Homo sapiens: one gene and its partners. The protein of the gene in region 3 purifies or fractionates together with the protein of the main gene of each other region. This does not show direct contact. Each region holds a gene or a part of one and is shown on either strand. Other genes may lie near its edges. The genes, in order: PTPA, TIPRL, PPP4R2 and DHX38.

Region 1 (7,019 bases), on a different chromosome or scaffold from region 3:
CAGGTTCTGGCTGGGAGCTCATCCCTCCTCCCCTGCAGCAAAGTCACACCCATGCATGCACACACACACACACACAAACGCACACGCACACAATGCACGCGCAGACACTTGGGGACCAAGCTATAGCATCTGCCTGAGGGGCAAACATACAAACAGGCACATGCAAGTGCCAGAGACAAGGTTCCCCTTTGGCCCTCAAGGCCTGCTAGGAAAATATAACATTCCTTGCCCACCTACCCGCAGTCACCCCTCTTTCTCCCACAGCCAAAAAAAGGGGGCCTGATTCCTATCGCCCACCAAATCCAGCAGCCTCAGGAAGATAAGATCTCCACCTGAGCTTCTGGTGTCGTTCCCACCGACTCCCCAGGAGCCTCAGAGCGCCTCTCCAGCACAGGGATTCACTTGGGTTCAGATAAATAGCAGCAGCAGCTAGGCCCCACCCCTCCAGGCCCACCCCCTCTCCCCCAGGCCCCCCCACAGGACACGTGGTCTGCACCTGCCACCAGCAGAGCTAGAAGAGATGAGGAAAGGGTCAATTTGCAAGAGGACCAAGGTGGGTATGACCAAACCCAGGTATCCGACAGCCCTCTGCCTGCCATGCAGGCAGGGAAGAGAGGGCCGATGGGAGGCAGGGGTGCCTGAAGCAGCAGCCAGCCTGGCCTGGCCAGGAGGTGGGGAAGGGGTGGCCGCCACAGCAGCTGAAAGAGGCAGGCACAAGGACGGCTCCATTCCTGGTCCTCCCTCTTGCCAAAGAGTCTGACCCTCCAGGACGGAAGAGAAAGATTCTGCAGCCAGCATGAAGTTCCCATGACGTCAGAAACCACAGAGGGACGCCTGTGTGCCTGAGCATATCCCCCTGACACCGCAAGTCCAGCACATTTGTATTTATTAACCAAGCAGTTCATAATTCCCCTCGACACAGCCCCCCAGCTCATAGGCAGCATTTACAGGGGAACAGGGCTCTGTACCCCAGACCCATGCTGCAGAAGGAAGACTCTGCAAAGAGGCTGAATCTGGCAAAGAAACAGAGACTTGGAAGGTTCTAGAAACATGCGGGTGTCAGGGGAGACTGGGTTATTTTTTGAAGGAGAAAAGATAAGCCAGAAACGCTCTCCAAAAAGGGGCATCAGTTCACCACAAGAGCCCTCAGGAGCCCCCACTCTTGAGCCATGGGCTGCCACCTGGTGACCCACTCCTGGCAGGCCTCTTACTTCTCTAGTAAGGGCAACTGTGACAAAACTTTTAAGATTTAAGTCAAAAAAAACCTGTCATTTTATCCCCCTCATTTCCCTCCCCTGGCCCAGGTTCCCAAAAAGCCCATCCAAACACCCATGTTCAGGAGCAAGGACAACAGGCTCCTCCCTCCCCTCCTCTTCTCTCCCAGGCTCCACCACAGCCAGGCAAGAGCCCGAGGCACCCAACAGAGACAAAGCCCACTCTGGTCCCTGGGGGCCTTGTCTTGGACCACTCGCTTCACTCAGAATCACCCCAGGCTCTCTCCTCCAGGAGGGCAGCCAGGCACCCCGAGCCTACAGGGGCCTCACCTCTGGGGAGCTTTGTTTCAACTGCCCTGCTCAACCACACTCCACCCCCAGCCCCTCCCCCACCTCCCCACCCTACCCCACCCCTTCCCCAGTCTGCAGGCTCCAGCCCTGTGCACACTTCCAGGCCCAGGAAAGCTCAGGGAGCATGGAGCTGTGTAACCAGTTTCACTCTCTGGACAGGGCCCTCTGAGCAAGCAACCAGGAGGCACCCTGTCGGCTTTGTCGGCTTTGTCTGCCAGGGGCCTGCCCGGCAAGGGCTCCGAGGCAAAGGCAGGCAGATGGGCACTGGAAGACAAGAGCCCCTGCCTCCTGGCCAGCCTCGCCTACCAGGGCCAAAGAACAGATCCTCAAAAGGCCTCTGGCAGAGCCAGGGCTAGGCCCATGTCCTGGAGCTCCAGTGGCCCTGGGCCCCTACACACAGAAAGGCCAGAGAGGTAGTTTCTTTGGAGGGGCTGCAGGCTGCCCCCAGGCCTTCAGTACCCCAGGGTCTCCCTAAGTCCTTCAGGGAGGTTACAGTCCTTTGCCTGTAACTCTGGCAAAGGAAAACAGACGAGTGGGAGAAAAAGGAATCGGGGCTGGAAGACAAAGAAAAAATTAGCTCATTCTAGCCACAAAGGGAGAAGAGAAAGAACCAGAATGAGCGAGCGAGCTGCAGCCCGCAGTGACCCCAGGGGAATCGTGTGAGTCAGAGCAGCCATATTGAGCAGGAAATTACTCACAGACGCTGCGTTCCTGCCTCTCCACTCCCCAGAGAATCGGCCTTTTGTAAATGGCTCCTCTGTCAGTAACTGGGGGGATGGGCGGGGGTGGGGAGGCTCTGCACAGCGCCTTCCTGTCAGCTCCTTCCCTTCCAGCTGAAATCTGATCCCTCCCTTCCCAAAACTCCAAATTTAGAAGCCAGATTGAAACTGAAATTCTTTTCCTGCCTGCCCTGGGCTCTTAAAGGCGCCAGGGCTGCATTTACAGAGGCTGTAGAGGCCCTGCAAGGTGGGGTCCCTCACCTAGGATGCCCACGGGTATCAGGGCAGTCTTGGCATGAGACCCTGAAAGGGCTGCCTGATTCCACTCCCAAGTTCTCGGTGTTTTAGTTAATCTCCCAGTTAAAAGAGCACCATGGTGAATCCAGGGTCTCCAGAGGAAACACTGCCTCCTTCCCAAGCAAGGCGTACAGAACTCCATGCAAGCCTCCAGGTCCCCAGTGAGCTAGGCCAGGCCACTCACCAACTAGGGACTGCAAAATGCTGCTCACTGCTCCGAGGTGGAAGAGGGTGGGCGCTCTGGAGAACCAACACAACGTGTGCTGCAACCAGCGGCCACGTGGCAAGATGGGCCCTTGCTGCAGCCACCCCGGCTCCTGGGCACACTCCTCCTAGGGTCTACTGTTGAACACCATGCCCAAGAGCCTAGACCCAAAGTGAAAACCCGGACCTGTGGAGAAGGTGCGGAACAGCCAACAACTCTAGGCACGCCCTCCCCTCCCTGTTCCTTCTGCTGCCTCAAATAAATGTCACCAAACCCTCTCCAAGTTCAGTGTGCCTCTCCTGCCACCTAGTGGCTACTTTGAGATTTCCTCTACTGGAGGAACTGGGTCCCAAACTTTGGAAAAGCTTTTGGGGTGTTTATACCAACAAAATCAACCAACCAACTAAAGACAAAATTTTACCATGGAATCAATTCCCAAAATCCTGGAGGCCAGGCCTGGCATGCCTCCTAGTTAGAATACCGACAGGGACCCAGAGGCCTGGCCAGCCGCCGGGGGAGCCCAAACAGCTCAGCCTTTCAGCCACACCCAAGAACTCAGTGTGGCATCTGCACCCTTCTTCCCACCCTGCTCCTCCAGCTTATCCTGAGGTCCCCCAGGGCTCCGCAGACCCCCACATTCCACTCCACAGAGAGCAGCGCGTGACTGGCTTTCAAGGCAGTGAGCCAGGCTGCCCCCAAGTCCTCCCGACCTTGGGCCTGCCACACTGCTGAGGGCAGCAGATCTCCGGGAATGAAGTGGTGGCCGCCCAGCCGTCAGTCCCGGCTCCATTTGCTGACTTGGAAAAAATGTGTCATTCCCCTCTGGCCTCTGGAGTTTGGCAGAAGCCTGAGCCGAATGTTGACCAGGAAGAGCCTGGAGCCAAGGCTGCTGGTTATAACCCAGCTTTCTCCACCTCGTCGGGGGCTCAGAATACACAGCCCGGACGGAGAGCAGCCCCCGTGGCCAGCATCCACAGGCCTGCTAGGAACCTCACTGAGGCAGCAGACATCCGTGCTGGTGTCGGGAAAGGGACTGAGGAGGGATAGAACTCTCAAACCCTCTCCAGATAGCTGAGCGAGGGCGCCCTTTGGAAACTGGGGCATGGGGATGGCAGAGAGGATGAGAAGTCCTAACACCTCCCTCAAGAGAGGTCCAGAGAGCAGAGGGTCCCCAGCTTTCCTGTGCAGTCGCCTGGCACGTGTGTTTAGATGCAGGTTCCTGGCTCTTGTCCCCTAAGATTCTGATGCAATAAGCTGGGATGGAGGGCCCAGGAATGTGCGTTTTAACAAACACACTAGGAGATCTCGCACAAGTGGTCCAGGGCCCACTGCAAGGAATCCTGCCTTGGTGAGACAATAACTTCCAGTTCCAGAACCCAGCCGTGGGGCTGGCTATCCAGTGACTGCCACCACAGGCCAGGCCTGCGCACTCCCACTCCAGCACTTTGCTCGGGCCCACGTCCTCAGGCACTGACAGAGACGTGTCCCTTCGACAGAAAAGCTGTCTGCACCAGAAGTTCGCTCCATCTCCTCTGGTGGTTTCATTTTACACATCCACAGCACATGGTTCTACAGACCCTTGTGGGGCCCCACCGAAAGATGCTGACCCTCCCCCACAAACCTCCGCCCGCCCCGACCCTTTCAGACCTGCTGCAGCAGTCACCAAGGCCAGTTAGTGACCAAGTCTTAGACCCTCATCTCAAGACTCCTGTGGTGTTCAGGAGAAACTGAAGGAGAACTGGGCGGAGGACCTGACAGTCAGCAGCGGCTCTTTCGGAAGAGGCCCAGTGGTGCTTCCTTTTCAATAACCCGCTCCGGCCGGCCCTGCCATTTTGGGCAGCAGCTCTGGCTCTTCTGATCCACTGTAAGGCCACCAGCCTTGGTTCATCTGAGCCTGGAGGCAGCCATGGGCTTCTCTCTCACCCCTCCTCCTCACCTCGGTAATAAACAGGATACACTCCAGGAACATGTAGTCCTTGTGGTTCTCATTCACGGCCTTCTCATCCACAAAGTGTCTGGGCTCCAGGTATGGGTGGTCTGGGAAAAGGAATGGGCCCCAGCATTCAGAACCAGGCCCCACGACTACCTGGGCAACCCGGCCCAGCAGTCACACCCCCCCAGGGGCCTCAGTCCTGCCCGTGGTGCCCTCAACACCTCACCTTGAAGGAGCAATAAGTAACTCTGGGTTTGTGTATTCTAATGTGCTAAGCTCTAGCTGCATGGCGTTGGACGCATGACTTCAGCCTGCCAAGGTTCAGTTTCCTCACCTGGACACTGGGGACAAGAAGAGCACCTCCTCCTAGGGGCCATGACAACAATTACCACACCTACAGCACTCAGTATGGTGCCTGGTGCAGGTGCCAGTCAGCAGAGCCGGCTTCATGCTGGCAGACCCTTCGCAGTGTCACTGAGAAGATTCGGGGAGGCAATGCACCCGAGGCCACAACTAATGGTCATTTATGAATATCAGTCTGTAGGCAGTTCATTCTTCATCAAAATAGAGATGATCACCTACGCCCATCCTGAAAACTAGCTTCAAGAGTTGGGGAGTCACCAGAGCAGGCCTCTCTGAGCCCCACAGGAAGCAGGCCCACCACCCAGCACTTGGCGGCTGCTCCCTAACGGGCCCCTTTGCACACAGCTCGATAATAACAGTGGATGACACTGGTCACCAAATCAAAAGGGTCCCTCATTTTCAACATAAAACCCCACAGCTGCTGCCAGGAGCTGGGGCGCATTTCACACCAGTCCATTATGCACCAGGCGTGCGCCCTTGCTCCAGCCCATGTCACTTCCCATTATCTTGGTGGCGCTTGGCCTCCGCCTCCTCCAGCCCACCACACGGGCTCTCACAGCAGAAGGTCGACAGTAAACAGCCTCCCTCAATAGCTGGTCTAATGCCCTGCTTTCCAAGCTGTCACTGTCTGCCCTGGGCAGGAAGAAGGGAAGGAGGGAGCGCAGGAGGGGCAGGGGAGGGCCACAGAACGCAGCCTTGGTTGGGGGTGGAGGGATAGGCACCTCCCGCTCTAGTACCTATCAGCTGCGAACTGCCCCAGATGAAGGGCAGAAACTGGAAGTCATCCAGACCCCACACTCCCTGGCTGCCGGCTGGCTCCATCCTGTATGTTTTCTGGAGTTTCCGCATAACCTCAAGGTACCTGCACAGGAGGACAGGGAAAGGGAAGGTAGCAAAAAGTAAAAAGACAGTCTCACCCTTTCGGCCACTGGGAGCACAAGGAGACCCCAAAATAACCACTGAAGAGTGTTAACTGGTCTCAATTTCAATAATGTAGCTTTATTTCCCCCAACAAACACTCAGCCATCTTTTGGCTCAGGAAAGGCATAAAAATCACTGATTAAGGGCCCGGGCACGGTGGCTCACGCCTGTAATCCCAGCACTTTGGGAGGCCGAGGCAGGCGGATCACAAGGTCAGGAGATCGAGACCATCCTGGCCAACACGGTGAAACCCCGTCTCTACTAAAAATCCAAAAAATCAGCCAGGTGTGGTGGTGGGCGCCTGTGGTCCCAGCTACTCTGGAGGCTGAGGCAGGAGAATGGCATGAACCCAGGAGGCAGAGCTTGCAGTGAGCCGAGATCTCTCCACTGCACTCCAGCCTGGGCGACAGAGCAAGACCCTGTCTCAAAAAAAATAAACAAATAAATAAATAAAAAATCACTGATTAGGAAGGTGGGTTTTGGTGCCATCAACTCCTGACAACTTGTAAAACCCTGGGCAGGGCCTCAGCCTCTCCAGCCTCAGTTGGCCTGTCTGAAAGCTAACACAAGTCCCAGCAGGTTATCTCCTAGGTTCTTCTGGTTCCAACCTTCTATATTATCAGAGGCTGCATATCAACCACCTGTGAAGCATCGAGCACTGCTCCTGGGCTCCGTCACAGGCCTGCTGCAGCAGCACTGCTAGACTGGGGCCCGCAATGGGGATTTTAAGAGCTCTGGGTAACTGATCCACATCAGTGCTGCCCAGCGACTGGCTTGGGTGGTGTGGGGCAGCAGGTCAGAGTCTGACTACCTGGGTTCAGCTGGCGTGAACCCAGTGAAGACACCGGATATCTCTGTGCCTCAGTTTCCTCATATGTAAAATGGAAATAACAGTTGCTATTTCATAGGGTTGTTGTTAGAATTAATGAGTTATACATAAAGTGCTTAGAATTCTTCCTCCATATGGTCAACACTGTGTCAATACTGGCAGACATTATGTGACAATTCTTTTTTTT
Region 2 (7,019 bases), on a different chromosome or scaffold from region 3:
AATGATAGGCAGAATCAGTGGAGAAAGTATGAAGGTGGGTCCTGGTGGCGGGGAGAGAGCGGTTGAATGGAATGTGAGGTATTTGGGTCTTTAAAATGAATATGTTTAGCTGGCATGGTGGCTCACACCTATAATCACAGCAGTTTGGAAGGTTGAGGTGGAAAGATCACTTGAGCCCAGGAGTTCAAGACCAGCCTGGGCAACAGAGTCAGACCCCATCTCTACAAAAAATACAAAAAATTAGCAAAGCACGGTGGCACAAGCCTGTAGTCCTAGCTACGTGGAAGGCTAAGCTGGGAGGATGGCTTGGGCCTGGGAGATAGGCTGCAGTGAGCCATGATTGTAACACTGCACTCCAGCCTGGGCAACAGAGCAAGACCCTGTCCCAAAATTAATTAATTAATTAAAATGAATATGCTTGGCCATTTGCTGAATAAATACCTATTGTCTACTAACACCAAGTTCTTACTATAGTAAGTCTTGGATTTATATAAATGAAAAAATAGAATCCCAATGCTCAAAAAGGTTATCAGCCAGGGAAAGGTCAAACAGATGTGGTAGCTGCTATAATGGGTATGCACAAGGCTCAATAAGCATTTGAGAAAGAAGTACCTAAGTCTGCTGAAGAACATCAGATAAGACAAGGCTTGAGCTGACCACAGAAAGAACAGCTAGAGATGGGAAGGAGAATTTCAGAAAGGGGACCTGCATGTACAAAAAGTACTGAGACATGAAATAATAACATATATTCAGGGAACTGCCTATAATCTTACATATAAGCACAGGGCTACATTAATGATGAAAGAAGAAATAACAGGATAACCCAGTAATGACAGTGACTTAACTGCCTGGAGAGTCACCAGCCACAGGCCAAATTCTTTTCTGCCTTGGGACCATTACACACCCTCTTCCCTTACCTGGAGTATTCTCCCGGCTAATGTTCACTTGTCCTTCAGATTTCAGTACACATGTCACTTCCACAGAGGGGCCTTTCTTACCATTCCATACCACAATAGATTTATCTTGGTATTCTCTCTCATAGCACTCCATTACGAATTAACGGATTTGTAACTATCTTCATTTATGTTTCCACTTGACTGTAGGCTCCATGGTGGTGGAAATATCTGCTTTGTTCATCACCACATCTCTATTGCTTAGAAAAGTACCTAGCACACAGCAGGTGCTCATTAACCATTTTCCGGATAAAACTGAAGCTAGAAGGTATTAATACCTTTGCTGGAGAAAAGGCTCTGAGCCAAAGTGTATTCTGATGGGGTTATCAGCAACAGACTTAAAAAAAAGACTTTTAGTAAAGGAAAGCTGTAGAAATAACCTGACTTATGACAACTTGATGTCACAACAAATTGAGAAGCACATCATTATTATTTGACATTACTACACAGTGATATGTGTAATTTATGGAAAAACTGACTTGCAACATTTCTTCAAATTTCAAAATTAGTTACCAACAGTCACACTGGACACAACACAGGCAGTAAACTGAAATATCATTTTAGCATGGCACAGTGGAGAGAGTAGGAATTAGGAGACCAGAACTCTAGTGCCAATACAATAGCATATTTTAGGGCAGTAGTTCTTTCCTAGGGGACGTTTGGGAATTTGTGAGAGTACTTTTTCTTGTCACATCAATAAGCAACCAATATCAACAGTTAGTGAATAAGGACCAGAACGACAGATCTGGGATGCACAGGACAATCCTATACAACAAAGTCCAGTCCTGCATTCCACAAAACTTGCAGTATCTTACCAGGCATTCACAGAGGTGAAAAAGCCTACTTATAATGATCTGACTTTAGAAACTATTTCCATTTTACATAGATAATAAAAAAAAAATCACTCAATTATCCAGGAAGTCAACTATTTTCCAAATCAAGGAAAGATTATACTTTTTCTTATTTAGAACTTCACTAAGAGTTGTTCATCATTTTGGAAAATTGTGTTAAGAGTCACTGATTGATACCTTACATCTCTGTCAGCCTACATTTTTTGCTGTCACATTTACGGTGACTCAATATGCAAATATAAGTACCTGACTGCTTCATTATGTCTTTGGTGCAGTCATATTATGCATTTAAGTATTAAAATATATTTTATTCTAAACCAATTTCCTTTAATTTTATAGTTAAAATATGTTGATTGCTGCAAAGTAGGTGGATTAAATCATCTACAAATTTCACTACAGGATAGTAATATCTATGAACTAATACTTCAGCTTAAAGTAGTTGGTTAAAAAAATGCTCTTCAGTTTAAGACTTACTATGTATTCTTGTACACACATATTTATACACATATCCTTTCAAGCAACTCCATCCACAAAACCACATGTGCTTTCCAAATACCGACCCACTTATAGACATGATATATATACCCCCTTGGATACAAATGCACACCCAGGTATGCAAACTCATAATGAACATTTAGCATAGTCAATTCAACAGGTGGTAGACAAGTGGAAAGATACAAGACTAGGTGAACTGAAGAGAGAATAAATCTAAACAAAAAAAAGTGAATTTAGAGTTATAAGTGAGCAAAGAAGTAAAGCCTATGAAAACAACTATCTAATGCTAGAATAATGATATATATTAGATGATACAAAGAAAACTTTGCAATTAGTTTCATGACCTTAAGCTATCTTTTTAGGCCTTATCTATAAAATATGGAGGCTACAAAAAATGATTCTCTAAAAATTCACTACAATTTCAAAATCCTTTGATTCCACCGAAAAAACTAATTTTATTTTTAGATAAGAAAAATAAAATTTTTTATTTATCTAAAAATAAAATTATTTTGTCTCCCAAGCTGGGGTGCAGTGGCACCATCATAGCTCACTGTAGCCTTGACCTCCTGGGCTCAAGCAATCCTCCTGCTTCTGCCTCCCAAGTAGCTAAAATTTGACTTTAAAACAAATCTGTTGCTGCTTTTGTATTATTTTCATTCTTTAAATCACAGCATCCACAATCATTATGCCCCAAGAACAATGTTTGATGTTAGGGTCTCTGTCTTTGACAGATCTCATGACAAATGCTATAATTGAGAGGTTTTTTGTTTGTTTTGTTTGTTTGTTTGTTTGTTTTGAGACGGAGTCTCGCTTGTTGCCCAGGCTGGAGTGCAGTGGCACGATCTCGGCTCACTGCAAGCTCTGCCTTCCGGGTTCACGCCATTCTCCTGCCTCAGCCTCCCGGGTAGCTGGGACTACAGGCGCCCGCCACTGCGCCCAGCTAATTTTTTGTATTTTTAGTAGAGACGGGGTTTCACCATGGTCTCGATCTCCTGACCTCGTGATCCGCCCGCCTCGGCCTCCCAAAGTGCTGGGATTACAGGCATGGGCCACCGCGCCCGGCCTAATTGAGAGGTTTTTAAAAAGGAGTATAGAAAAGAGATATTTAACTCTGTGTAACGGAGTTGTGAAGGGCCTTGTAGAAAAGGTGGTATTTTAGCTGGGTCTTTGGGTCTTAAAGAATGAGGCATTTAGTAAAAAGTTTCAGTTGAGTTATTTCTGGAAAGTATTAGAGACCCAATTATAATGCAGTGGTAAAGAAATATGAATAACCATACTTGTTATGTGTGTTTTCTACTTCTTTTATTTTATTTTATTTTTTTTTTTTGAGACGGAGTCTTGCTCTGTCGCCCAGGCTGGAGGGCTGGAGTGCAGTGGTGCGATCTCAGCTCACTGCAAGCTCCGCCTCCCGGGTTCACGCTTCTCCTGCCTCAGCCTCCCGAGTAGCTGGGACTACAGGTGCCCGCCACCAGGCTGAAAATTGAAGTGGTAGTTGAATGATGCACTGAAATCATAACACATGGATCATTTTAAAAAATGACATCCACCTTGCCGTCTGCAGATCCTATCAACATCATTTTTAATCCAAAATGTGAAAATTAAGCCACAGTCTTCATTAGAGTTAAATAATAAACAAATAAACTACAAGGTGGCCAGGCAGGTCTATTAAAAATGCTTTGCTAAAATAAAGCCTTAAGAATACACAAATATTTTGTGAATTTTATAATGGATATTCAATAAGATACACTCTAGATTCAAGTGAAATTGTACATGACATCATGTTAAAGCTCAGTGTTATTCTTTTTTTTTTTTTTTTTTTTTTGCTCTGTCGCCCAGGCTGGAGTGCAGTGGCGTGATCCTGGCTCACTGCAAGCTCCGCCTCTTGGGTTCACGCTACTCTCCTGCCTCAGCCTCCCGAGTAGCTGGGACTACAGGCGCCCGCCACCATGCCCAGCTAACTTTTTGTGTTTTTAGTAGAGACGGGGTTTCACTGTGTTAGCCAGGATGGTCTCGGTCTCCTGACCTGGCGATCCAGCCCGCCTCAGCCTCTCAAAGTGCTGGGATTACAGGCGTGAGCCACCGCGCCCGGCCAGGCTCAGTGTTATTCAAAGTGAGTCATATTTTTGTCTGATGTTAAGAATGCAAGAAAAATATTAATTTTAAATAAAAATAATACTCACAATCTTCACACTCAGGCTTGAAACTCCATGATCATGAAGTTCATCCTCAAAAAGGAGAACTTCTTCAAAAAACTTAATCTGTTCTCTGGCTTTCAATTTTTCTGTATCTATATGATCTGTTGTAGGTACAACCTGAAAGAAAAAATTTTAAAGAGGAGCACATTAAAAAAAAAGTTGAGGAGCTACAGAGACACAGGAAAGCAGTCTTTTCTTTTCTTTTTCAATCAGTCTTTTCTACATAGCCAGAGCACACAGTTCTAAATTTGGGTGTCATTAGTAGATATAAAAGATCAGAATATGGCTTGATTCTGAAAACTGAAGACATTACAGATGCCCAATATTATAGCTTCACAAAAAAAGCAGTAAAAATTTATCATTTTTCATGCAAGTCATATTAAAATCAACTTCTGTTGTGACTATGAGAAAATTAATCAACTAAACATCAGTCAGTGTGATGAACGACTGCTATCATAGAAGGTCATAGAACATTTGTGCTGTGAAAGCCACTTTTAGGACATTCATATGGAACTTAAAAAATATTTTTCCATTAGAATGTTAGATATTTGCTCAACCTAACTCCCCAAAACCTACAACAAAATAAAGTGCTTTAAATAATGAGGTAAACAAGAACTTGTAGAGAAATTCTGAGGGAAACTCTTAGCATTGCAAAGAGCTTTGAATGAAGTTGGCAATTTTTCAAGGTATTATTTTGTAGCTCTAAGACATGCACACACGTAATCCAACAAAAGCATCAACAGTCCCAAGGCAGATCATATCAGGAGCTCATTAAACTCAAGTGTCTCCTGAGCAGCACCCAAGTATGAATTGTGATACTATTTTCTACCACACCTAATTTCACTACAAAATGCTCAGCTGTTTTACTCCTTGACAGGTTTACCATAAACAAACACAACAATGCTTGTCAAACCATAGATATTTAGTAAATGTAGCTTTACTTAAGCGTCATGATTAGGTGATTTGTTTTGACTCATGGACAAAATTAGCAGATGGAGAGTAATTTGAGATAACTAGATAAGAATCAGAAGAAAATTACAAAGGATGTTGTTTACAAGACTGCACAGATTTTGGGAGGAAATCTAAGGGAACGTTAAGTAATGTAGGGGGAAAAGATGCCATGAAAAGAAAGTGGCAGTTTGTATATGATTTCCAGGAGGTAAAAAAATGTCCATAATTCTTCCATGGTCACTTAGAGATAACACTTAGCCCTAAGCAGTTTTACTTCCAACTGTGTACGGAGCAGGTATAAGGCCACTCTTGAGGTGAAAACTGGGAGGGGAAGGGAGTTGGAGTGTAGGGGCAGGGCATATAACCAGTCCCCTGCATCACACATTAAGTTTATGATCTAGTTAAACAAAAGTTGGTCTGCCAACGAGGACTGCCTAAGGTTACACAACTGAAATTAGTGTTAAATACACACACTTGTAAATTTCGTCCTTTTTATTTGATTTTAGTTCAGAGGAACACATTTTTAACATCCTCCTTATAGATACTCCTGAATCCCCCAAAATTAATCATTATCTGAATTTTCTCATTAGTAAATTGCTTCATTAATGTTTCACATATGCCTTCAGTAAGTGATTGGTCAAAATGAATCTGTCAGTTTTTCCATTTACGTACTTGTTCTTATAAAATGAAAGACAAAGTCAAAAAACAAAGCATGAGTTAGAGATATCATATTTAACTTATTTATGCTATTGTCTCCATTTGCAAGGCTAAATATGTCTAAAACTTTATACTTTTCAGCTCTCTTCCTCAACTCCACATATCTCTCTCTGAACCCAGGGATCTAAAAAATACAACAAAAAAAAAATAACCAGCTAAATATAAAACATATGGGCTGGGCGCGGTGGCTTATGCCTATAATCCCAGCACTTTGGGAGGCAAGGCGGCCGGATCACTTGAGGTCAGGAGTTTGAGACCAGCCTAGCCAATATGGTGAAACCCCATCTCTACTAAAAATACAAAAACTAGCTGATCGTGGTGGCAGGCACCTGTAATCCCAGCTACTCAGGAGGCTGAGGCAGGAGAATCGCTTGAACCCGCGGGGCAGAGGTTGCAGTGAGCTGAGATCACACCATTGCACTCCAGCCTGGGCGACAAGAATGAAACTCTATCTCAAAAAAATAAAAAACATATGGAACAGTATTGGCAGAATAAGTAATCTAGACAAACCTTCTTGATGAAGACAATTTAAAAAGCTGGCTAAAAAAACCCAAAAACTTCCTAAAAGCATCAAATGGCCAAGGCAGTATGGAGTTACTGGGCTGAGATCTGGAAAGACTGGAGCCGAGAAAAGTAAGTCTGTACTTGGCTGGCTTTTGCCCTGAGGCATAGCACTGGCTGATCCAGAGAAGAAGCTGGGCTCTGCTAGCTTTTGGTGCCATCACTGCTCAGTGCTCACTAAGGACAAGGACCCTGGAGAATTTCCTGCTTCCTCCCAAATCAGAGATGACACCCTAAAGAGCTATAGTGATTTCAGAACTTTTTTTTTTTTTTCTTGAGACAGAGTCTCGCTCTGT
Region 3 (7,839 bases):
ATCATTTCAGTACAAAACATGCTTAGTGAATACATAAACACCGAATATGGGGTGGAGGATTGGGAATTTTAAGTCCTCTTCTACCAGGATAAAATAACTGTCCAAAAAAAATCAGATAACTTCCCCAGCCACTTGGTGTTCCAGTAAGACAGGATATTAAAAAGCTATCTTTTAGAAACTTTCAATTATTTATACATTTATAGGCAATGTACTTTATCAAAAAGGGAAAGCAGTGTGTACAAACCTGATAAACTGAGTAAGACGTTTTAAGTACTCATCTCCAAATAGTTTGATATCATCTTGTATATCAAAAAACAGCCAAAAGTAAAATGCTATTTGGCTTGACATTGTTGACAGGGCTAAGTCTGTGCCGACTAGCAATTCAAGAGGAATAGTGGCAGTCTAAGCATTTATGTTTTAGGGATTAATTTATTTTTGAAAGATGGCATGTGGTCATTTTTAGGCTTATCTATATAAGCACAAATTAACAGTTTTACATTGTTCTAAATCAAGATGTTCTATATGAAACCCTAATGCGAAGGTAAAAATGACTTCCCCCGCCCAGAGGGTCCCATTTTTTAATGTAATAAATAGAAATACAACATTGAACACATCACACTGACGTTCTCAAAATGACTGGTGTATTTTAATAGAATACTAAGGAGACTCAGCTTGCAGGCATGACCATTAAATCAAGCACTGAGGCAGCAAAGGTTTTTTTCTTTCTAAAATTAGGCTAGTTGTTAAAAGGCTAGACTACAAATAAGCAAATCTTGTGAGAAATGAACACTTGCTAATAATAAAGCCAGAGAAATTATACAATTCTTGCTGAAAGCTACACTCATACTGGGCAGATAACCCACTTATTAACATTGAAACCATAGAAACCTACCCCTTTCCTGCTGCCCCAGCCCCCACCCAAAGACTACAAAAAGAAGTCATCAAAGATGCACTGTTGTCTACAAATAAACTTAGCCAGATTGTGTCTACCACACAAACTGCAAAACAATGACCTGGAATGTTCCTTCTGAACACAGCCCTAACTTTATAGCGTAAGTTTCAGATTCAGAACATTTGGAAACGAGCTGAATAAAATGCTGAGCATATGTAACAAGTCAGCTATCTTAGAAAGTCTACAAGTCAAAACTGTAGCATCTGGAATTTGTCAGATAATAACAGAGTCCTCCAGACGATAAATAGAAGTGACACTTTAAACACCTACATATGCAAATATGACCAAAAAAAGGCTGGACACACGACAATATGAGAAAATACCACCAAGACTCTGAAACAGAATCAAAGCCACAAAATTCTAGGAATAAGCCTATTTGTTATGGCCAAAAAGGGTCATAATGGAATAGGCATTCTTCCTTTCTCTGGCTCGTTAAGACTAATACATTCTCTAAGCGTGCCAAAGCCTAGCTATAAAGAAAATTTTAACATACACAGGTTTTTAAAATCCGTTACAGACCATGTATAAAGTAAGTAAGCGTATACGTTCTTTAAATGTAAATATATAAATTATTTAAATGACCAGGACTTCTACAATTTAGAATGAATTATTTAATTATCCCAAAATATACTTTTTTCCCTTTCCTGAGCAATTCTTAATAATGCACTGGTCTATAACGACAAATGCATGTTTTCAACTCACATTGTTTCTCCAGTCTTGGCTACATGACAAAGAAACTGATCCAGGACAGGACAAACTTCCTTTTTCCCCCTCTTCTCAAAATCTAGATGAAGGAAGAAAAAAAAACGTTATCAGTTTTCTCAAAAGCGCTCTAAAAACAAACTTTCCTCCTAGTCCTTTACCTTATTAAAAATCAATTAAATACAAAATTAAAAAAATAAGGCCTCTCAACCAAATTACCACCTCAATCCTCCAAGTTCTACTTCCAACATGTCACCCTCTTTACAGATAACAAGAATCCTCCTAAAGGGGGCACTCAACTTCACAAACCATTTTTAACGCAGTGCTTCTCGAAGTGTGGTCCGGGGGAACACCAGCATTATATTAAGCTGGGAATCCAGTGAAAATAAAAATCCCCAGGCCCCGACTCCCACCAATTGTTCATCTAAGTCCATAAATCTGCCTTTCTAAGAAGCACCAACTACCCCAAGTTGCCGTCCCCAAATGATTCTGAATGTCAAAGAATAATTCTCAAAACGCTGAAATCTCTCTACTCGAAGTTTGTAAGCCACTGTTCTCAAGCCTGTTGCGTGGAAGGCGTGCAATCAAGAACAGTGAAGGCAACCACCTCGAAATTAGGGCGCGGAAAGATGACTTCAAAAGCCCTGAAAAAGGCATACTGAGACAACTTAAAAGTTGCGATGCTACCCCCTACCCCCGCCCCCACCAACCGTTTACTTTTTCTCCCACCCCAACGCCTAGCGTACGGGTAGCCTGGTGGAGAAAAGAGGATATCTGGGAGGGAGGGGTCTGCGGGTCCGCCACTCGTCCCCTGAACGGGTGGGAGAAAGACTGGGGCCCCCGCAAGAGTTTCCCCGGCTCCCCTCCCCCAGCCCAGACGCCGGCGGCCGACACAAAGCCAGAGCGGGGCGGGAGAGAGCTGCCCACAGGGCTCCCCGCCCCTGGGGAGGTGGAGGGGGATGGGAGCCCGGGAAGCACTCTCCCCACGCCGCGCCCGGCCCCGGTCCTCGGAACCATCCGCCCTGAAAGGAGAGAAGAGCGAGCCGGAGAAGGTGAGGGGGAATGGAGAGGGGGCAGCTACCCCCACCTTTCAGCGCCTCCTGGAGCCTCTCGACGTCCATGGCTTCCCGGAGTCCCTCACAGCCTCCGCCTCCCTCCGCGGGTCTCTTGGGGACCGGAACGCCTCCCCCCACCCCCCCGACGCCCTCCCCCTCCCTCGCACACACTCCGGCACGCAGGCGACCGGGGGGGGGAAACGAAGGGAGCCGGGGGAAGCGTGCGAGAGAGCAAGACCGACAGAGCGAGCACCTCCCCAAGCCGCTACCACCAACCCTCCAACATGGCGCCCGGTACGTCACCGCGCGCACGCTCCCTGCCGCCGTCCTCGCTCCCGCCGCGCGCTCCGGCCCGGAACCCGAGAGCGCGTGCGCGGCCGAGGTGTGACGCTGGGGCCCAGTGGCGTCTGCGTCCCGGCGGCTTCCAGAGCCTCAGCCCCAGCCCCAGCCCCAGGCCCAGGCTCCGCGGAGCTGAAGACTGGACGGTCAGGCGAGAGGGTTGCAGGCGGACTCCTAGGCTTTGAATCCCTGCCATTTCCTCTCTGTGTGAACTTAAGCTACTTACTTCGCCTGTCTGAGCCTCATTTTCCCCATCTGTACAGTAAGGGCACTGGTACTGATGCCCTATGCAGTTGCTGTGAGAATTCAGTGTATACACTTCACGTTCAGAATGCGCCTAAAAAACGTAGAGCGAGGCCGGGCAGGGGGCTCAGGCCGGTGATCCCAACACTTTGGGAGGGAGGCCGAGGCGAGAGGATCGCTTGAGCCCAGGAGTTCGAGACCAGTCTGGGTAACAAAATGACCCCGCTCCCTCGCCCTTCTCTATATAAAAATAAATACAGGCCGGGCGCGGTGACTCAAGCCTGTAATCCCAGCACTTTGGGAGGCTGGGGCGGGCGGAGCACCTGAAGTCAGGAGTTGAAGACCAACCTGGCCAACATGGCGAAACCCCGTCTCTACTAAAAATACAAAATGTAGTCGGGCGTGGTCGCTCGTGCCTGTAATCCCAGTTACTCGGGAGGCTGAGGCACGAGAATCGCTTGAATCCAGGAGGCGGAGGTTGCAGTGAGCCGATATCGCGCCACTGCCTCCAGCCTAGGCGACAAAGCGAGACTGTTTCAAAAAAATAATAATAAAATTAACAATACATACATACACTAAGCATTGCTAATAATCCTAACAAGAATACCTCCCTGCTTAACCCAACGTTCGTTCGTCACTGGCCCACCTGTGGCAAGAAGTAATGTATACAGCAAAGTCATTAAGAGCTCAAGGTTTGGAATCAATATTCAAATCCCAACTCAACTACTTACTCCTTGTGTGGCCCTGAAGTAGTTACCTAAACTCAGGCAGCTTCAGGGTTCTTATTTATAAAATGAGGGTTGTAAAACGGCCACGAGGATTGAGTGAAATGGCAAATGTGAAACATTTGGCACAGTGCGTGAAACCTGGAACACTCAACGTGGCTGGGTTTTTATTACCACTGTTAGCATTATTACATGACATAATCTCCCAGGAGGTAGGAGAGGGCGGAAACCTCAGAAGTCCTCTGCAGCCCTGACATTTTACAAATGGGAAAGCTGTGTCACAGACAGCAAGTCTGGGGAGACAGAACTAGAACCCAGAACCCAAATCATCTGGCTCCCAGCCAGTGCGTGGACATTTTTATACTCATCTGTGAGCTTTTAAAAGAAAAGGTACTGCCCGGGCACGGTGGCTCACACCTGTATTCCCAACACTTCGGGAGTCTGAGGCAGGCGGATCACCTGAGGTCAGGAGTTTGATACCAGCCAGGCCAACATGGCAAAACCCTGTCTCTGCTAAAAATACAAAAAAAAAAAAATTAGCTGGGCTTGGTGGCGGGCACCTGTAATCGCAGCTACTCGGGAGGCTGAGGCAGGAGAATCCCTTGAACCCTGGAGGCTGAGGTTGCAGTGAGCCGAGATACTCCAGCCACTGTACTCCAGCCTGGGCACGACAGAATGGGACTCCGTCTCAAAAAAAAAAAAAAAAAAAAAAAAAAGAGAGAGAGAGAAAGAAAAGAAAAGGTACTGCGTTGTTCCACCTCCTCTTCCCAAAACCCAGCATAGCACAAAGTCATGGAAGGAAGGAGGGGAGAGAAGGACCAAGGGAGGGAAGGAAGGTTATTGTTTGGTCTAAGAAGATGCAAGTTTGGACACAGCCTTTACACTGTTGACCCTCTTAAAAGACAGTGGGTCTGACCCTGATCCTAGGTGGTAGATGTAGGCAAAAGACATTCACACCCAAAATAGCTCTCTCAAATTGTGCCATCAGAGAACCAGTCCCCTGTGTCTTTAGACCTTCGTTGTTCAGAGCATCTAGCTCAATTACAAATATCCTTGCAGAGAGAGGGAATAGGGTAGCACATCAAGCACTTGGCCAGCACTTGCCAGGCACCAGGTTTAGTTTATCCAGGTCCCTTCCAGTCTGAAAGGGCCTACTGCCTACATGGCAAAGCTTAGCCTCTCCTTCTATCTGCCACTCTACTATTCAGAAGGGTCTCTTACTGTAAGAGCTCTGCTGTACAGTAGATATTAGCCATGTGTGAATATTGAAATTTAAATTAATTAAAATTAAATAAAATTTAAAATTCAGTTCCTGAGTTCTTCAATAAAAATCCAATTCTTTTTTTTTTCTTTTTTCTTTTCCTTTTTTTTTTTTTGAGACGGAGTCTTGCTCTGTCGTCCAGGCTGGAGTGCAGTGGCGTGATCTCAGCTCACTGCAACCTGTGCCTCCCGGGTTCAAGCAGTTCTCTGCCTCAGCCTCTCGAGTAGCTGGGATTACAGGCTCCCACCACCACGCCCAGCTAATTTTTGTATTTTTAGTAGAGACGGGGTTTCACCATATTGTCCAGGCTGGTCTTGAACTCTGGACCTTGTGATCCACCCGCCGCAGCCTCCCAAAGTGCTGGGATTACAGGTGTGAGCCACCGCCCCTGGCCTAAAAATCCAATTCTTTGGTCACACCAGCCACATTTTAAGTGCTCAGTAGCTACATGTGGCTAGTGGCTCCTGTATTGGATAGTTCAGATAAAGAAAATTTCATTATTGCAAAAAGTTCTATTGGAACTTTCTGTTGGAGAACACATTATGCTAATTTCTAACACTGTTTTGTCCCTTTCATTGCTGTCAGCTTAACTGAATTTCTTATGGTTTTTCAGATCCCACCTGGTCTTCAGATAATCAAGGCTTGTGCCCCTCTGGTTAGCTCCTCCTCTCCAATGCACTTTGCTACATTCCTCTGCAAATTCAGATCTCTACTTAAACACCACTTCCTCTGGTACACTTTCCACGATTCCCTTAGGCTGTCATTGCTGTGTGCACTTTGTCGCCCGTCATAGACCTTATCCAGTGTCTGGAAGTCAAGATTACAAGGGGAGAAGAGGCAAAAGATGAGGCTGAAAAAATAACTTCGTTTGGTTCATTCCTTCCTTCTTCCTTGAATTCTTCTCCAGCCGGCCTGTATCACAATGTCTGCAATTACTAGAGCCTCCTACTGGCTGGGCATGGTGGCTCACACCTGTAATCTCGGTACTCTGGGAAGCCAAGGCTGGAGGATCACTTGAGACCAGCCCAGCAACATGTCTCTACAAAAAATAAAAAATTACCAGGGGTAGTGGCGCACACCTGTAGTACTAGCTACTTGGGAGGCTAGGAGGATTACTTGAGCCCAGGAATTTAAGTCTGCAGTGAGCCGGGATCATGCCACTGTAATCCATCCTGGGCCACAAACATAGTGAGACCCTGACTCAAAAATAAAAAATAGAATAATAAGCCTCCTACTGATGCCGATTTCCTGGGAAGAAAACAGAATACAAATGTGGCAACCAGCCCCCACAATTACCCCTCATGATCCTCACTTGCTGAGATTCATGCCCTAGTATAATCAGGCACACCAAATCACAGCTGTCTGTGTGAAGGCACTAGGGCTTCTGCCTTGGCCTCTTGAATTGGTAAATGGGGCCTCAATGGGGGAAGCCAGCTGCCATGTCATGAGAACATTAGACAGTCTTGTGGAAAGGCCCCACAGAGAGAAGAACTGTCCTTGAAGGTGGATCCTCCAGCCTCAGGAATTCCTTCAGGTAACTGCAGCCCCAGCTGACATCTGGATCACAACCTTAGCAGACATCCCACACTAGAGCAGCCCATCTAAGTCACTTCCCAATACCTGATCCACAGAAACTGTAAAAGGTGACAATGTCTATAACTGTTCTAAGCCTCTAAATTTTAGAAACTAATGCAACAAATAAGAAATTTAATAGTAACAGCTAATATTTATTAAATACTTTCATGTGTCTGGCATTCTCCTAAGCAGTTTACAAAACTATCAAAAAGTGTCTCCTAAGCAGTTTACAAAAGTATTTAATTGAATCCTCACAAAATCCTATGAGGATCCTCCTCACTTAACAGAAAAGAAAACTGAAATATAGAGGCCCAGCACAGTGGCTCACGCCTGTAATTCCAGCACTTTGAAAGGCCGAGGCGGGTGGATCACCTGAGGTGAGAAGCTGGAGACCAGCCTGGCCAACGTGATGAAACCCCATCTCTACTAAAAATATGAAAATTAGCTGGGCGTGGTGGTGGGCGCCTGTAATCCGAGCTACTCGGGAAGCTGAGGCAGGAGAATTGCTTGAACCCAAGAGGCAGAGCTTGCAATGAGCCAAGATCACGCCACTGCACTCCAGCCTGGGTGACAAGAGCGAAACTCAAGAAAGAGAGAGAGAGAGAGAGAGAGAGAGAGAAGGGAGGGAGGGAGGGAAGGAAAGAAGGAAAAGAAAAGAAAAGAAAGAAAGAAAAAGAAAGAAAGGGAAAGAAAGAAAACGGAAATATAAAGAGGTGAAATTGCTTGCACAAAATCACACAACTACATAGGCAGGTGACTGACCCATGATTCAAACCTAGACTGGCTTCAGAGCCCCCAAACACTTTCTTGTCCTCAAGAAGTTTGCAAAATACTAGGAAAGATAAGATGTAAGTGTAGGCCCTCATGCAAGGTAGAAGGCAAAGCTGTGTATCAGATATTCAGAGGCCTGCAAAATTTCTTCCAGGAAGAGATGGAAGGGTCTCACTTAAAGACTGGAAAAGATTTGTACGGACAGAGAAGAGCCCT
Region 4 (7,880 bases), on a different chromosome or scaffold from region 3:
ATGGGATGGAGTCTCTACCCGAGCAGACCGATAATGTCTGAAACAGGGAGAGCAACTGGTAAAGGCCCCTCCATAGGAGAAAAACTCTGCCCTAAAACCTTTGGCTGTCCAAACAAGTGATCTGTCCTTTTCCACTTTCTCTCCCTGGGACGCAGGCTCACATATGGCAACAACCCAAGGCATTTCTAACCTCTACCATCTCGTCTTTATTCACCTTTGTTTTTCCCCACAAATTCCTACCTACCTTCAGTATTACAGAATCATAATAAAATCATAAAGCTCTAAATCTCCAACAGGAAAACTGAGAGATAAACATGAGCTGTTATTTTCCAGCCTCCGTTCGCTTCCCTCTGGGCTAACCCATACTAAGGCCTTTACCTGTCTTTCCGGATATTTTGGCCAGCCTGGTCACCGCCCTCTTCCTCAGCATCCTTCTGGTCATCCTTGCTCTCTTCCCAGTCCTTGTAGGAGGAGACTTTGGACTTCTTCTTGTCCTCCCCATCGTCCTTCTCCTCTCGCTCTCTCCGTTTCAGGGAAGCCAGCAAGTCCAGTCCGAGTAATGAAGGGCGGGGAGCAGGAGCCTTGAAGACATGCTGCTCGCTGGCCGCACTTTTGGACTTGCAAATAAGACCACCAACCTGACAGTCCAGATCAGTGCCTTCCAATCGATGGATCGAGGCATCCTCACTGGTGTCCCCCATCACAGGATCTGGGATTTCTCTGGAAGGAAGGCAAACCATTTGGTACTAGAGAAGGCTCAGCTCTACTATATCCCACAATAAATGCAGTTATGGTTATATGTAGGTGATTAACCTTCCCCATCTCCCCTTAAGACCAGGACTACTTTTGCTCCCTCTCTCCAAGACCTTTCCATCAAGTCACTGCCTATCTCCAAAGATTCTCCTATTCCAACCCCCAATAAACACCAAAATAGATACACACACACACACACACACACACACACCCCATACATTCCTCCCCAGCCCCCACAAAGATCCAAGAGGCAATAAAAAGTCTCACTAAGGGACACTTTCTAGAGCCTGATGTCAGCAGCTGTAACAGGGATGTAGGGAAAACACCACTAAATTTGAATCAGAAACCTCAATTAGAAACCAGGCTCTTGACACTTTCTACCTGTATGATGGTAAGCAAATAACTTAATCTTTGTTTAGCCATAATTTCATATCTATTAAATGGAAAAAATTTTTACCTTATCTAATCCATGAAGCTATTGTGAGAATCAAACAAAAAGTGTATGTGAAACCATAAAGAGTAGCTCTTTATGTAACCATAACAGTTAACATAAATGTAACTGCTACATTGTATTATTTGCTATCCTCCTATATACTGTTGGTCCCTCACCCATTTTTTTACATGAGTTCTACCTCTTCCTCTCTTTAAACAACAGGTACAGCAGCACAGAGATGGGGCAGAAGGCTACCGTCCATGTTCTCCATACTTTAGTGGCTTTTCTTGGCCTAGCTGCGTTTTACAGAAAACAATTTACTCACAGCAGCCAAAATCAGTTTAATAACAATCCATGTTCACCAAAAATATTTATGAGAAACACCAGGTTAGGAAAAGGTGTTACTGAGAAGTATTTAAGTGGCTACAAGACTTCTGGCACTCAAGTTGGAACAAGCTCCTCTTTACCTCTCACTACACATCTGCCACTCATCAACATATATCAGTTCTGGATGCTTGGATAATTCCTCTCATTCCAACAAGTTAGCAAAGCAAAGGAGATGCCACCAGAATCCAGAATTGTTTACCAAACTCTAATTAAATGCACAGCTCTACAGAGTATTGCCAAACAGACTGGACACATAATATTAATGCAGAAACAAGAGTTACATTTTGAAAATGCCATCAGGCAGAACAGAAAAAAAGAAAGCTGCATATTGGTGACATCTGTGCGCATGTGAGGAAATCCACACAAGAAGGTAAAGATATACAGGCTCTACTCAATAGTTGTCTAAACTAGGAAAGGTACCCTGGACTGCCATTCTACGCAGTTGAGAGAACACTGGATGTGTTGTTGACTGCTGTAGCTCAATGTCTAGCAAAATAAGCGTTTGATAAATTAAAAAATGAATTAATTTAAACTTATTAAAGGAGGACAGGAACCCAAACATTTCTGGAGACAGCAAGGGAAGATTCCAGCAACACAGGACAAGGAGACAGCCAGAGAGAACTTCATTAGCTGCTGAGACGAACAAATAAGGAGCTAAAGAGCAAGATTCTTGAGAAGGATTAATGGCAAAGAAACTACAAGGCGTACGAGAAAGCCAGGGAAGAAAGAACCTGGATTCATTCATTCAACAATTATTCACTGAGGGTGTCCCTGAGCCAATTGCTGTTCTCGGCGATAGCAACAGAGAACAAGACAAAAATCCCCGCCCACCTGGAGCTGACATTCTAGTAGAAGAGATCGCCCACCAGATTGCCTGGTATAAATGACACTGTGAGAGAGCAGAGGAAGACACAAGGAGTCCTACTCGGGCTCGGTGACAGTCTGGGGTGGGTTAAAGCGGAGGCCTGGGAGAGGGACCAAGGCCACTCCAGGCAGCATCCCTGGATCTCAGCGAGGCCGCTCCAGGCAGCAGGATTTGACCAGAGCAAGGAGGAAGGCCAAGGCGGCCAGGACGGATGCAGCATCCCTGAGGTGAGTAAGGCAAGGTGGGTGACAGGGACGACAGAGGAACTCCCCAAACTGGGGCCCGGACCTGAGCAGGGGACCAATATCCGCCGCCTAGAGCCGCCATGATTACAGAAGGGCAGGCCAGGAAGGAAGAAGGGACTCTCACCTCACCAAGCGCGACTCTTGGGACCCTTCTGTCCCGGATTCTGGGGCGCCGGCGCTGCCACCCCTCGCTCAGACAGGCTCAAGGAGCCAAAATCCACACCTTGAAAGCGGCCATTATTGTCCCTTAATACTTTGCGCGCCCCCTCTATCCGCCCAAAGCTACCATAGAGAGCAGCCTGGAACACGCCCGATTCCTGGATCCAAGTGTGGAACGGTACGCCAACAGGCTCTCAAGGCCTCCTCTGGGGCTCTGATCAGACACTTCCGAGTCTCCTTGTGACCAATCACTCTTAGCCTAAGAGACTACATCCCGCCTCTAGTCTGGGGGCAGGAAAAGGAGGGGAAAAAGGTCGACCATCTTTAATACGGGCGGAGGTGACGCCTAGCTTCCGGTCAGAGCCGAGCAAGGTGGGCGGTGACTAGAAGCTCTTCCGTTTATTGGGCTGTTGAGCGGGGGCCGACCGACGGCCAGGAGTTTCTTTTCTGCGCTTGTGCGTTTTCTGTTCGGTTTCCTTCCCGCTAGCGGGGCCACGAGGGTTGCTAGGCAACAGCCCCTGGGTGACTTGGTCTTAGGGTCCTGTCCGGCTTGGGGCTGATGAAAGGAGCTGTCCGCGCCCGGGCTCTTCCGAGAAGTGGTTGCTGACAGCCACAAAGTGAAAGGGAGTGAGGCGGCGTGGACGAGTAAGGTAAGTGCTGGGGTCCCTTAGCGCTTGTGGGCCAGGAGCAGCGCAACACAGGTGACTTTAAATATGTATATCGGATATTTTGGAAAATGGAGATGCGCGCCCGGCTGTAAATAAAAATCACCCATGCGTTCACACGCAGAGATGACCACTGATTTCCAGTTGTTTTTCTGGAATACATTGTAGTAAGATTCTGTACAAAAGTGAGTTCAAGCTTTTTTTCTTTTTTTGGTGTTTCTGCAGTTGTGGCGCGCGCCTGAGGTTCCAGCTACTCGGGAGGCTGAGGCGGGAGGATTGCTTGAGCCTGGGGAGTTGAGACCAGCCTGGGCAACATAGCGAAACCCCGCCTCAGAAAAAGAGAGGGAGAGAGGAAAGCAGTGGAGTTATTGGTCAAAGAGTATGTCAGTTTTCTTTCCAGAAAGGTTTTGTGTCTGCATTCCAGCAGGAACTCCCTGTGCCTGCCCCTACCACTATCTTGTTTAATTTTTGCCAATTCAGTGACTTTGTAAACATATGTTTTAATTTGCTTTTCTTTGCTTACTGGTAAAGCTTAACTTTTTAGTTTATTTACTGTCCATTTGTACGTCTTCTTTTGGGAATTCTCTGTGGGTATCATTTACTATGGACATTTTCTTAGATGTGGTCTCAGTTTTCCTCTCCTGCTTCCAACGTTTGTCCAGTTGCACCCCTAGCCTCACCACTAACAACTTTGTTCTCCCCTTACTTTCTCCTTTCGATCAGTAACACGGAGGAACTGCTGTTTGTTTGAATTCTAGTGGGACAGATCCGTCTTCTCTTTGACCTTCCCTTTCATTGGTAATTTGTTCTGCTGCTCACATCTGATGACGTCCCTTTGGGCCATCAATGTCCCTGTTTAAAGTATGACCTATAGCTGGAACAATCTTATTTCCTATGTGAATTTTAGTTAAATAATTCCTTTTTTTTTTTTTGGAGACGGAGCTTCGCTCTTGTTGCCTTGCCCAGGCTGGAGTGCAGTGGAGCGATCCTAGCTCACTGCAACCTCCGCCTCCAGGGTTCAAGCAATTCTCCTGCCTCAGCCTCCTGAGTAGCTTGGATTACAGGTGGCATCTGCCACCACGCCCGGCTAATTTTTTGTATTTTTAGTAGAGACGGGGTTTCACCATGTTGGCCAGGCTGGTCTCGAATTCCTGGCCATAGGTGATCCACCCTCCTTGGCCTCCCAAAGTGCTGGGATTACAGGGGTGAGCCTGGCCTAATTCGTATCTTAAAATGTGACTTGTGACAAAAAAAATAGGAAAAGAAATCCTCCCTTTTCATATTTGGAACTGAATTCAAAATACCGACCATCTCAATGGAGTCTCTTATAGATGACCACAAAACTAAGCTTCTTTGTCAAAGAGTTTCTCAAAAATGAAATTTCTACCAATCATGAAAATAGATTATTGTAGTAGAAGGACCCCTGGACTAGAAATTTGGTGGCCTGTATTCTAGTCCTTGTCATTGTAGTAGAAAGTGCAACTGTAAGCAAGCTAGTTTGTAAAATGACGGGGTTGTATTAGGTCCCTTGTACCTCAGTATTTTATTATTTGTTTATGGTATTGTAGTTTTCACACACACTCTTAATTGATCTGTTTGCCGTGTAATGAGGTGCACCTAGTAAGGTGCACACGAAGAATCTTTAAGCCAGGACTTGTAATAATATAAAGTATACAATAAAGGACTGTTTAAAAAGTGTAACACATGCAAGAAATAATATGCTGCCATGACAGAGAATATGGATGTTCTCTATATAGAGATATGGGGCAATCTTCATAGGTTAGGTTTGAAATAATGAAAAGTGCTGAAGAGTAGATAAAGTGTGTGTGCTGAACATCTGCCATTGGTCCCTCCACAGCCATTCTTCATCCTCCTCTAGACTGCTCTGGGACAGGGAGGTTTGCCTGCCTCAACAGGCCCCTGCCCTCTGGTTCCAGTTGGAGTCAGCCGGTGGTTGCATGAGCAAAGGTCAGAGGGAGGGAGGAGAGTGGCTGCAACACCTAACAGCAGGCTGCCCTCCTATACACTGTCCTCTCCACTCACCTCTTTCTGCCACACAATTCTTATAACTGCTTCCTACCGTGGCTTCTTCCTCCCATGGCCTAGGGATGGGTACAGCATCCCGCTGTTACTAGCCCCAAAGTAGTACACTTTACCGTATTGTTTTTCTACACCTGCCTTAATTAAACTGCCTTCAAATTACCAAAGTTGAGAGTGTCATCGCTTTCCTGCTGGAACACTGATACAATAGGCTATCTTTTGGGGGTGGGGAGAGAGAGAAAAAAAATATCGGAACGCATATTTGTATTTTTTGGTGAATGCATAACAAAACTCTGAAAGATACATGAGAAACTAATGAAAGCAGTTATCTGGCCCGGGGGAGGGAACAATGAAAACTGGTTCCAAGGAGCAGGGACAAAGAGAGGGAAACTCCACAGTGTTACCTTTCTATGATGTTTCTTTCATACCATGTGAATACATTAGCTACTCTGTGAATTAATTTTTTTTAATGAGGGCTCACGCACTTAATCTAAACTGTCTTTAAACATTGCACCTTTATTTCAGGAGTGACAGTGAGGATTCACATTTGGGTTATTTCAAGATGAGCTTCCTACTGCCCAAGCTGACTAGCAAAAAGGAAGTAGACCAGGCGATAAAAAGTACTGCTGAGAAGGTGTTGGTTCTCAGGTTTGGGAGAGATGAAGATCCTGTCTGTCTGCAGCTAGATGATATTGTAAGTGAATGTCTAAAATAATTGGTTTTTATTAATAATCTGTATATTCTCACTTCAGCATCTGAGTAGTACATGAGAGGGAGTAGTCAGGGTTGGGTATATAGCTGTTCATTTGTTAGTTCACTAAGAGCTGATTGTGTGCCTGCCCTGAACCAAGCCCCCAAATCTGTGTGTGCTGAATCTGTCTTGGATGTCCTTACCCACTAGAAGCTGTCAATGCTGTTTCACCAACAAGGTGATGGAAGAGCAGAAAACTATTAACAAGCATCTGTGAACACTATCTTTTCAGTGCTCGCAATAGTGGGATAATAGTAGCCCCATTTCCCAGTAGGAAAAAAAAAACCAGAGAGGTCAAGTAATTTCCCACAGGTGCAGATCCACTATATTGCAGAGTTGAGATTTGAACTCAGTTTTCTGTAGCTGCAAATAATCTTTTCTAGTGTGCTGCCTCCAGTATGTGCCTGATGCAGAGAGAGACCTAACCCAGAACTAAGACCTCTTACCGCCATTTCTACTGCTACCATCCCGTGTAAGAGCTGAGCGTACAAATCCTCATTTCCGTGGTTACAATGAGGGTGTGATGTGTTAGCTTGGGGAAAAAAGGACCAGAGGATTCTACCCTCAGTCATAAGCAGGAGGAAATACCACAGAGGTCAGTGATGTAGACACTGAAGCCACACTGCCAAAGTTCAAACCCCAGCCCTACTGCTCAGGAGCTGTGTGACCTGGGGCAAATTACTTTACCTTCCTGTGCCTCAGTTTCCCTATCTATAAAATGGGGACTCTGATAGCATATACCTTATAAGAATGATGTAAGGATTAAATGAGTTAACAAATGTTAAGCACTTAGGACAGTTACCACATAGTAATGTTATATAAGTGTCTGCTACTAATTATCGTGGTTTTCATTTCTGGGAGGATTGGGAGGAAGGAGACGTTAGGGAATTTCAGTATCCACATAACATATTTCTAAGTTGTGTTGTTTTAAATGAGCATGGGCTACTTTTATAAAAGCATTCAAAGAAAGAAATTAAAGGAAGAAATAGATTCACACAGTTTTCCCCAAGGATTTGTATGCTCAGCTCTTAACACGGGATGGCAGCAGTAGAAATGGCGGGTAGAGGTCTTAGTTCTGGGTTAGGTCTCTCTCCACAATGAATAGACAGGAATACTCCCATGCTGTCACCCTCCTAAACTCACACAGTTTTCCCCAAGGTCCCCTTCTAACCTCACACAGTTTTCCCCAAGGTCCCTTCCTAACCTCATACAGTTTTCCCCAAGATTCCCTCCTAACCCCGTTGCAGTGAATGAGACTCTGGAGGATGGGGTTATGCTTTGTCTAATGTGGGAGCCACATGGGCTGCATTGTTGGCCCAGGAGTTTTTTCAAACAAAACACTCTGTTGTAGTAACAAGTTTCACAGAAGAAACATTAAGCTGCCTCTCATATTGTAACCTTTGTCTCTCTCGTCATTTGCAGCTTTCTAAGACCTCTTCTGACTTAAGTAAAATGGCTGCTATATACCTGGTAGATGTGGACCAAACTGCAGTTTATACACAGTATTTTGACATCAGTTATATTCCATCTACTGTCTTTTTCTTCAATGGGCAGCATATGAAAGTGGATTATGGGTAAGTGC

The links.
Region 1: the proteins of PPP4R2 (region 3) and PTPA purify together in Homo sapiens (affinity purification with mass spectrometry; 3 studies listed by BioGRID and IntAct, with this or other methods). This does not show direct contact.
Region 2: the proteins of PPP4R2 (region 3) and TIPRL purify together in Homo sapiens (affinity purification with mass spectrometry; 6 studies listed by BioGRID and IntAct, with this or other methods). This does not show direct contact.
Region 4: the proteins of PPP4R2 (region 3) and DHX38 purify together in Homo sapiens (affinity purification with mass spectrometry; 4 studies listed by BioGRID and IntAct, with this or other methods). This does not show direct contact.

Annotation. Positions count from the first base shown.
Region 1 is NC_000009.12:129,135,396-129,142,414, reverse strand, and holds part of PTPA (serine/threonine-protein phosphatase 2A activator), read right to left. Parts: intron 5,945-7,019; coding exon 5,820-5,944; intron 4,824-5,819; coding exon 4,723-4,823; intron 1-4,722. UniProt on the Homo sapiens protein: PPIases accelerate the folding of proteins. It catalyzes the cis-trans isomerization of proline imidic peptide bonds in oligopeptides. Acts as a regulatory subunit for serine/threonine-protein phosphatase 2A (PP2A).
Region 2 is NC_000001.11:168,188,961-168,195,979, reverse strand, and holds part of TIPRL (TIP41-like protein), read right to left. Parts: intron 4,612-7,019; coding exon 4,480-4,611; intron 3,773-4,479; coding exon of another isoform or gene 3,752-3,772; exon of another isoform or gene 3,585-3,751; intron 1-3,584. UniProt on the Homo sapiens protein: May be a allosteric regulator of serine/threonine-protein phosphatase 2A (PP2A). Isoform 1 inhibits catalytic activity of the PP2A(D) core complex in vitro. The PP2A(C):TIPRL complex does not show phosphatase activity.
Region 3 is NC_000003.12:72,991,974-72,999,812, reverse strand, and holds the start of PPP4R2 (serine/threonine-protein phosphatase 4 regulatory subunit 2), read right to left. Parts: upstream 3,003-7,839; 5' UTR 2,776-3,002; coding exon 2,742-2,775; intron 2,707-2,741; exon of another isoform or gene 2,622-2,706; intron 1,737-2,621; coding exon 1,655-1,736; intron 1-1,654. UniProt on the Homo sapiens protein: Regulatory subunit of serine/threonine-protein phosphatase 4 (PP4). May regulate the activity of PPP4C at centrosomal microtubule organizing centers.
Region 4 is NC_000016.10:72,088,979-72,096,858, reverse strand, and holds the start of DHX38 (pre-mRNA-splicing factor ATP-dependent RNA helicase PRP16), read right to left. Parts: upstream 3,013-7,880; 5' UTR 2,808-3,012; intron 2,666-2,807; exon of another isoform or gene 2,481-2,665; intron 721-2,480; 5' UTR 702-720; coding exon 379-701; intron 38-378; coding exon 1-37. Other genes in the region: TXNL4B (thioredoxin-like protein 4B), read left to right, coding at 6,110-6,241, 7,721-7,872. UniProt on the Homo sapiens protein: Probable ATP-binding RNA helicase. Involved in pre-mRNA splicing as component of the spliceosome.